3 linked regions of the Homo sapiens genome follow. The protein of the gene in region 1 interacts with the protein of each later gene in a pairwise test. Each region holds a gene or a part of one and is shown in the gene's direction. Other genes may lie near its edges. The genes, in order: PAX9, ZNF440 and SSX4.

The links.
Region 2: the proteins of PAX9 (region 1) and ZNF440 interact in a two-hybrid assay, tested with the Homo sapiens proteins (one large-scale study listed by BioGRID and IntAct).
Region 3: the proteins of PAX9 (region 1) and SSX4 interact in a two-hybrid assay, tested with the Homo sapiens proteins (one large-scale study listed by BioGRID).

The regions. Positions count from the first base shown.
Region 1 is NC_000014.9:36,671,725-36,675,467, forward strand, and holds part of PAX9 (paired box protein Pax-9), read left to right. Parts: intron 1-3,743. UniProt on the Homo sapiens protein: Transcription factor required for normal development of thymus, parathyroid glands, ultimobranchial bodies, teeth, skeletal elements of skull and larynx as well as distal limbs.
Region 2 is NC_000019.10:11,833,495-11,835,716, forward strand, and holds the end of ZNF440 (zinc finger protein 440), read left to right. Parts: 3' UTR 1-1,722; downstream 1,723-2,222. UniProt on the Homo sapiens protein: May be involved in transcriptional regulation.
Region 3 is NC_000023.11:48,386,456-48,390,198, forward strand, and holds part of SSX4 (protein SSX4), read left to right. Parts: intron 1-855; coding exon 856-905; intron 906-2,890; coding exon 2,891-3,026; intron 3,027-3,743. UniProt on the Homo sapiens protein: Could act as a modulator of transcription.

The DNA.
Region 1 (3,743 bases):
ATTGGTAAATCTGTATTTTGAACATTTGGAACAAACGAAATTAAAACTTGTACTTTCATTCTTCTTGTGATAACCTTAACTAGAAGAACTACATTGCATCTTATATATTTTTTTCTAGACTATTTCCGTTAATGTCAGTGTGATGAAGTTGGTCTTTTCCTAAAAGTATTAAAACAAAGCAGTAACTTACTTTTTCTAGGGTATGCAATTTAGTCTATTTTGCTTTGTATTAGTAAATCTCCTTCTCAAATTTAGGTAGAAGATAGTTTGCTATAGAGAGCACCCTTGCACAGTTCTTTCAGGGGAAAGAATTCTCATGCCTTTCATGGAAGATCCACATGAGAAAGGAGTTGATGGATTGAAGTCTTATTTATGGAATCTTTAGGTAAAGTCATTTTCAAAAATGAGATTTCCATTACATGCCCATTGCTGGGGTTTCATTTGGAAAATTTGTTTACTCTTCCCTGGGGATTCCGTATGTTGGTTGATTTATAAATCATATTTACAATCCAATTAAATAGAGTAATTTAGCATGTTTGCTCCCACTATATTTATAGTGTAGATTTGGTAGTCTCTACTCAGCCTAACTAGCTTTTCAGATTAATTACATGCCCTTCACTGAAAACATTAAACCGATTTGGGACGTTTAAGTCATGTACTCTTTTACTGGAAAGAATAAACAAACATCAATGCTACCTGTAGTTGTTTTCCTTTGCGGTGGAAAATTTTACTTTTTCAGTGATTGCTTCATAAATAACAATTACTTGACCCAGTAGAGATTTATATCTTTTACTAATGTTATGTGTCAAAATTAATAGTGAGAAAATTGATGTGTTTATTGAGTCACTAAAATGAATAAATAATGAAGGTGGCAGGAGGCAGGTAAATTTTAAAGCACATTTACTTGCTCCTTTTTTTTCTAAATTTATAAATCTGAGCTTCAAAAGTAAAAAGTAAAATTAAGACAAAACTCTCCAGACCCCCAAGCTAGGGTCATAATTTAACCTGAGAGAAAACTAAGGGCTATTTTTATACTGTTTAAGTTTAAAGATTTATGTTTGTTTTTTTTTTTAAGCAAACGTTTTAGCCTCTCCTTGCCTTTTTCTTTTTTCTTTCTTTCTTTCTTCCTTTTTTTTTTTTTTTTTTTTTTTTTTTTTTGAGATGAAGTCTCACTCTTGTTGCCCAGGCTGGAGTGCAATGATGCGATCTCGGCTCACTGCAACTTCCGACTCCCGGGTTCAAGCAATTTTCCTGCCTCAGACTCCCAAGTAGCTGGGATTACAGGCACCTGCCACCACACCCGGCTAATTTTTGCGTTTTTAGTAGAGACGGGGTTTCACTATGTTGGCCAGGCTGGTCTTGAACTCCTGACCTCAGGCAATCCGCCCGCCTCAGCCTGCCAAAGTGCTGGGATTACAGGCGTGAGCCACCGTGCCCGGCCGCCTTTTTCTATGAGATGAAATCAACCATCTCCGAGCTTCTCTTCCTACCCTGTCTTTCTGCAGTACAAAGGGATTGCATCACTAAAATGATACTAAATAAATATTGTGGATTTAAGAGAACTTTGAAATATTTAGTACTAAGAATAATGACATAAAGCAAGTTTGTGCATTAAGTATGAGAAGTTGGACAAACATGGAAAAATTTGCTCATTTTTTTACACTTGATAAATGAATGTAATCATGGAATAAATAAGGCACTAGAAGTTAATACAGGCCTAAATCCAATGTCCTGCCTGCCCCTAAATTCCAGGAACATTATCTAAGATAAAAGTTCAATGCAGCATGTCTCTGAGGGCCATCTTCCAAGTGGGTCCATGTAAGGGGACCATAGACATTGCAACAAAACAACTGAAGAGTCCAAGTAAATGGGGCAGATCAATGAGCAAGAGTTCCAAGGGCAAAGGTGTAAGAAAAGGGAAGATGACTAAGCAAGGATTTCAGAGAGAACTGTAATTTTGAATGATAGATAAAATACAAAGAAAAAAGAATGGGTAGGAAAAATTTAGCTGTGATGAAAAATAGAACTCGCCAACAGTTCTGTTCTGCTAACTAGAACATTGTTTCTGCCATGTATAATATTAAATTTTTTAACTTTATGTCCCTATATGATGTTGGCCAAAGATTTTTATTATTTTAGAAGTAATTTTAATGTTAGCATTCTTATTTCATTATTCTTAGTTCACATTGGCATCAGTAGTATAAAACATTAGTCAATGCTGGAAATGAAAATATTAGTTAACACCACATACAGATGTGAACACCTTTCCATAACTGAATTGGATTTATTTCTTTCCAAACTCATTTATCATAGATTATTGGGACAATTCTAAATAAAAATGATTAAAACTATAATCTCTATGCAAAACTAGATTTTTTCCCCTGTAATTTGATAGTTCTCTATCTTGATACCCATCTCCTGAGAGCCTTAAAGTGTGTCTCCTTTGAGACATAATCAGCCATTCTCAAAAAGTGGAAGAAACTATTCTTTTTTTAGAAGGGATCTGACAATGAGAATCATGTTCTAGGAGAGAAAAGAATTTGTTACCAGATGTTATCTCAAAAGATGCACTAGTTTTAAATTAAATTGCATCTATCTTTTAAGTGTTCAGGAAAAACAGTATGATATGCTACAGAGGACCCTGCATTGGGCAGGGGTGATAAATTTTTTTAACACATGGCCACTGGCTTGCCAATTGGTTGAGGGTACATGGCTAAACCTCTTAATCTATATCCTTGTATAAAAAGAGGATAAGATTTCATTTGTATTCAACAGTTATGTGCGGTAGTTTCTTGATTTAAAAAATGCAGCAGCATCATTCTCTGGGACCCTTAAAATACACTTTAATTTCAGTTGAACATTGTGTTGTATTTGTGACACACTATCTTGTAATTATGATAAACTCAATCATTTATAATGAACTATATAATTCATTAATACTCATTACTCAGTAAAATATGTTGGATATTTCTTGGTGCCTGGGACATAGGACACACTTAAGAAACTTTAGCTTCCTTTCTCTTTCCCTATTTTCAAAGAACCAACATTGAAAAACACAACATGAGGTGTTTGTTCTTACAGAGCATAGACACAAGGCTAACCCCTCTAATATTTTTCTTTTTTTGTCAGAAATGCATGAGTAATGTTGTCATACCCACGTATGTATTCTATTCCATGTACATATTCATTTACTCTGCATTGAGAAAATAGTTTTTGAGACCGCACCACTGCATTCTCATAGATGTAGAAGTGAAAACAATAGCCCAAATAAATTAAATTAGAAAGTAATTCCTGTGTTGCAATTGAACGGGAAAAAGTACCTAGCTAACATACATCTGATTAACTTAATTCTAAGGATTAAATCAATTTTCCTCATAAAATTCTAGTATTTACATCGTATTTTCACTAGGAAATATATTGAAATGGTAGTTCATTCATGTAACTATCAGGACACAGCATCTACACTTTATTTCTAAAGAGTATAAAAATTGAGGGGAAAAAATTAGACTACTTGAAGAAGGATGCCCAGTGTTCATGCCAGAATCAGGATTAAAAATCAGGGTGTTTTTAGTGTTGTTAATAGTAACGATACCAACAATAATTCACTGGATGCCAAGACAGCACTGGTTTCTCGGCAGGCTCGCCTGCCGGGACTGCTGCATTGTGTTTGCAAACAAAGATTTTAATTTCTAAATTCACTTCAAGAGATTTATCCACGTGGCTTTTAAAAACTCACATCACAG
Region 2 (2,222 bases), on another chromosome or scaffold:
TGCAAGCAATGTGGCAAAGCTTTCACTTCTTCCAGTTCTTTTCAATATCATGAAAGAACACACTAGGGAGAAACCCTATCAATGTAAGCAATGTGCAAAAGCCTTTATTTCTTCCACTTCTTTTCAATATCATGAAAGGACTCACATGGGAGAGAAACCCTATGAGTGTATGCCAAGTGGGAAAGCCTTCATTTCTTCTAGTTCCCTTCAATATCATGAAAGGACTCACACTGGAGAGAAGCCCTATGAATATAAGCAATGTGGGAAAGCCTTCAGATCAGCCTCGCACCTTCAAATGCATGGAAGGACTCACACTGGAGAAAAACCCTATGAATGTAAGCAGTATGGGAAAGCGTTCAGACCTGACAAGATTCTTTGAATACAGATAATGAATGTAAACAATTAACTGTTTATAATAACTGTATACTAACAAATGATATTCTTTTTAAATAAGAAGCTATAATATCCCATTGGTGTCATGTATTAGATCAGCCTTATACTGTTAAATTGTTATTATTTGGACATTGTGAGTCAGTATAACCATGTGGATAAAATGCCAGACATCTTTTTATTCGAAAATTTTACTTTTCATGCTTCTGTACTTACATTTTTATCTCAACCTTAATTTTTCTTTCTTTTTTTTTTTCCCCCAGAAAGAATCTCACTCTGTCACCCAGGCTGGAGTGCAGTGGCATGATCTCAGGTCACTGCAACCTCTGCCTCCAGGGTTCAAGCAATTCTCCTGCCTCAGTCTCCTGAGTAGCTGGGACTACAGGCATGCGCCACCATGCCAGGCTAATTTTTTGTATTTTTTAGTAGAGACGGGGTTTCACCATATTGGCTAGGCTGGTCTCAAACTCCAGACCTCATGATTTACCCACCTCGGCCTCCCAAAATGCTGGGATTACAGACATGAACCATCATGCCCAGCTGCAACCCTAATTTTTCATTCAGTCATAATACCAATAGTTATCTCATGCACCTCTGAGTGCCTTCTTCCCCAAAACCAGCAGTGCCATACCTGCTGTCAGCAAGGGTGTAATATACCATAGTGATAAATATGACCAAAAGCCATAAATGACTGTGAGATGTATGAGAATTACAAGTCACATTAGTAAGAAGAGAAAAATTTTGGTCATGTTTATGATTTGAAATACGTTTTCCTCTATCACATTTAAAAATATAGTTACAAAATGCCCTTGTTTTTGTCCTGATTCATCATGGTCACTGAGGAGCATCGTCTCATATGCCTGGTATGTGACACGTGTCTCTCCAACAATAAAAGACTTGGCCTTGGCTGGGCATGGTGGCTCACGCCTGTAATCCCAGCACTTTGGGAGGCCGAGGTCAGGAGTTAGAGACCATTCTGACCAATATGATCAAACCCCGTCTCTACTAAAAATACAAAAGTTAGCAGGGCGTGGTGGCATGCTCCTGTAATCCTAGCTATTCAGGAGGCTGACATAGGAGAATTGCTTGAATATAGGAAGCAGAGGTTGCAGTGAGCCGAGGTTGCACCATTGTACTCCAGCCTGGGCAACAAGAGTGAAACTCTGTCTTAAAAAACACAAAAAAAGACTTGGCCTTAGGGCCGAGTGCGGTGGCTCACGCCTATAATCCCAGCACTTTGGGAGGCCGAGGCGGGCGGATCACTAGGTCAGGAAATGGAGACCATCCTGGCCAACACAGTGAAACCCAGTCTCTACTAAAAAATACAAAAAATTAGTGAGGCGTGGTCTCAGGCTCCTGCAGTCCCAGCTACTTGGGAGGCTGAGGCAGGAGAATGGTGTGAACCTGTGAGGTGGAGCTTGCAGTGAGCCAAGATCGCGCCATTGCACTCCAACCTGGACGACAGAGCAAGACTCCATCTCAAAAAAAAAAAAAAAAAAAAAAAGACTTGGCCTTGTGGTGAGGGGAGGGCATCTGTAAACTCCTGGACCTGTTTTTGCCTTACTTATTCTCTAAAGACTAAAATATTTCCTAAAATGTACAGGCACTGTTTACCAGAAAGTACCTTAGTTAAAACATATAAATTTGTTTATGCCTTATAAAGCTATATTTTTTCAAATTGCTTTACTGAGTCATAGGAGGCTAATAAATTTGTGTAAATTGTCTAAATACAAGCCTGTCTTATATTTCTCTGATAATGTGCTGCTGATAATGTGCTGCTGAGGCTAACTTTCTCTGATAATGTGCTGCTGAGGTTAACTTGTCAACAGCCT
Region 3 (3,743 bases), on another chromosome or scaffold:
TCTCTGTATTTTATCAAAACCAAATAGTCCTCACATTCCCCAACAACCCCAATTCTCCGTGATGAGCTTGGAAGAGAGTTTGAAAGAGTGATCCCTCATCCAGCACACAGAGAGCTTTCCCACTTCTCAGTGAGCAGAGATAACATAGGGTGAAAAAAAGACAAGTTTCGCGTAGAGATCTTTGTGCATTTCAGGAATATAAAGGGGACATATGTGTTTACTTGCTCTTCTGCTCTGAGAACACAGTTACAAGACAAGGTCAGAATGTCCAGACTGTCTCCCATAGACCTATTACTTCCCAACTAAACAGGCCAGATTCTACGATCTCCCACAGTCACTATAAGAGGTCTGAAAATCCAGTGCTTGAGTATCTGCCAAGTTTTTGACATTAAATGAGTGCCAAATATTTATACTGAAAATATTTCAGAGCCACTGGACTAAATCATCGATGGTTCATCACACAGTTAACAGCTTAATTGACATACCATAAGATTCACCCATTTGAAGTGTACAGTGATTTTTAGTTGTTGCACATCTTGAGTGATTACAGTTTAGATTCCCAACCAATCAATTTAACTATTTGGGAAAAAGTAAAAGATATGTAATGGAAAAAGATGAGACTGTGATGGGGTTTAATACCCATGTGATAAACCACGAGATGGAAAATTCTGAATTGATGCCACAGATAAATGCACCAACCATGACTAAACATAATTCAGAAGCAAATCTCAAATAACTCCTCAACAATGAGTGGACTCACAACCTCTGCTGCAGAATGCCCTCATGCGACAGAAGTCTCTCTAGAGTTTGGAAATCTTTACCAACAAAGAAAAATTCTGATGTATTCTCTTTCAGTTGAACGTCCTCAGATGACTTTCGGCAGCCTCCAGAGAATCTTCCCGAAGGTGAGTGTCTCTCAAATCTAAAGGACCAGAGAACGTTTGTCCCTGCACGGATGCGAACACTGATAAGAGTGGGAGAATATCAAACATGCCCTCACTGCCTCCTTCTCCCCATGTCTATCACAACAACTTATGTGGCACCGACGGCTTGCTAATATTAACAGTTGTGATCCTTAATACTTCTTTGGTTTTCATAGTGATGCCAGATTACTATTTTAAGCAGTTCACATGGGTTAATTTATTTAATCCTTAAGAAGACCTCTATGACGATGTTTCTATTACTATCTCCAAATACTATCGAGCCACACACTTCAATTGTCACCCATATAAAAGACATGTAACTTGGTGCAAATCTTCTAAGTTCTCTGAGATCCAGACTCCTGGTCCATGAAATGGAAGTAAAGAATCATAGTTCATGTTTTAGATCGTAGTTATCAGCAACATAATAATAAAATGAGGCTATCGGGGTACAGAGATGTTAAAGAATTTTCCTGAGGCACAGTGGCAGTGGTAGTCTAATCCAGAGCTCCAAGCCATTTAAAGCTCATTCACGTTTGCATTTGTTTATGAAGTTCAGATGTTGCTCACTAGGGCTTCACCCCATAGGGCCTCCTGGTGCTTCCATTGAGACACCCACTCTCGCAACAGGAAGGACCAGCTGGCCTCTGCTCTGTTACCGGGGCCACTCACATGGCTTAGGAATCGCTTTGACTGTTGGCCCCTCCCTACTGTGAGCTCCTTGATGGCCTTGTGTGCACCTGGGGCATCCGGGAAGCCCCCGTCCCAGCCCAGGGGATCCCTCGAAGGCCCCTGAATGAGTGATCCCACAACTGCAGATCCAACTCTGGTTTGGAGGGTAAAGGGATCTGGGAGTTGGGTTGCCAGTGTGGAGACCAAATTCAAAGAAGGATCATGAAAAGTATTAGTTTTTTATTATTACTACATTTAAAGAGTGTTTACAAGCTCAGAGAGCACTTTCTTGTAGCCTATTTTACATGTACTGTTGACTATTTCGTAAGTGAGGAAGCTGAATAAAAAGTAGCTTAAGGGCTGGGCGCAGTGTCTCACGACTGTAATCCCAGCACTTTGGGAGGCTGAGGTGGGTGGATCACGAGGTGAAGAGATGGAGACCATCCTGCCCAACATGGTGAAACTTTGTCTCTACTAAAAATAGAAAACTTAACGGTGCGTGTTAGAGCCTACCTGTAGTCCCAGCTACTCTGGAGGCTGAGGCAGGAGAATGGTTGAACCTGGGAGATGGAGGTTACAGTGAGCTGAGATCGCGCCACTGCACTCAAGCCTGGCAACAGAGCAAGACTCCGTGTCAAAAAAAAAAAAAAAAAAGGAAAAAGAAGTAGCTTAAGGTCGTTGGTCAGTGACACATCCCAATGCAACCAGAGTTGGTATGGGTACCACCTCACTTAATTCCACATTCAATGTTGGCGCCTCGGTAGGGTAGTATGCCATGTCTGGTACTGCTTTCTTTGCTGCCTAGTTTAATTTCAGCAAACCATTTCTTTACCTCTCCTGTCCCTGTATTCATCTCCCCACACCATCTTTCCCAGCAGTGTTTTATCGCCTCTCTATGTTTTTACATTTACTCTCCCAGCAGCTGTCTACAAGCTTATATGGGATCCCTTGTATTTTATAGAAGCTCTTTCTTTTCTAGACCTTGTGAATTCTTAGAATGCTATTCTCCAAATCTTCTGTATACCAAACTCTCAATTAAATGGAGATTTTTGCTGTTTGCAAGAATGTGAGTCTTAAAAGAGTGTGAAGATAAGCATTCTAGCCCTGGAAAGCCCATTCGTTTAGGCCATTCCTTTCCCTTCTAACCTCCCAGGTTTCTCCTAATTTAGGCCTGTGTAACTCTCCCAGTCTTGTTGAGAGCATTGAATAAGCTAATGCACGTGAAGACCCTTTGTAAGCTCTAAAGCACTGTAGAAATGTCACTGATACTGTTTATCTGCGACCTTCACATTGTAAAGATCATGCCCAAGAAGCCAGCAGAGGAAGAAAATGGTTTGAAGGAAGTGCCAGAGGCATCTGGCCCACAAAATGATGGGAAACAGCTGTGCCCCCCGGGAAATCCAAGTACCTTGGAGAAGATTAACAAGACATCTGGTAAGAGGAAAGAATTCGGGAACAACCCCTCTGGCTTCCCTGGCTGTGTTCAGGTGCGTGGACTGGGTGTGTGGCATGGACCCCAGACAAGCCAGGGTCCAGGCTGGGCTGAGGAGCTCGCCTAGCTCCAGATGAGATGTTAGACATGACTTCCAGAGACACAGACTGGAGTTGTCATCCATATAAAAAAAACCACGTGACGTGGGGAAAGTCTTCCAAATTTCCTCAGCTCCAGGTTCCTAGTCCATAAGATGGAAATAAAGAATCATAGTTCATAAATTGTTTGGAGACATTAAATGTAATCTAGAAGGCCTGATGACATGAAAGGTGCTCAAGCAATTCTATCTGTGATAACCTGGGATCATATCTTACTCAGCTCAATGCCTGTTACCCAATACAGGTGTGCTTCAGAGATATTGCAGGTTCGGTTCCAGACCACTGCAATAAAGTGAGTCACACACATTTTTTTTTTGTCTTGCAGTGCATAAAAACATTACATTTACATTATACTGCAGTCTACTAAGTGTGCAATAGCATTAAGTCTGAAAATGCACATACCTTTATTTTAAAATAATTCATCGATAAAAAATGCTAACAATCTTCTGAGCCTTCAGTGAGTCACACTCTTTTTGCTGGTGGAGGGTCTTGCCTCGGTGTTGATGGCTGCTGGCTGATCAAGGTGGTGGTTGCTGAAGATTGGAGTGGCTGTGGCAGTTT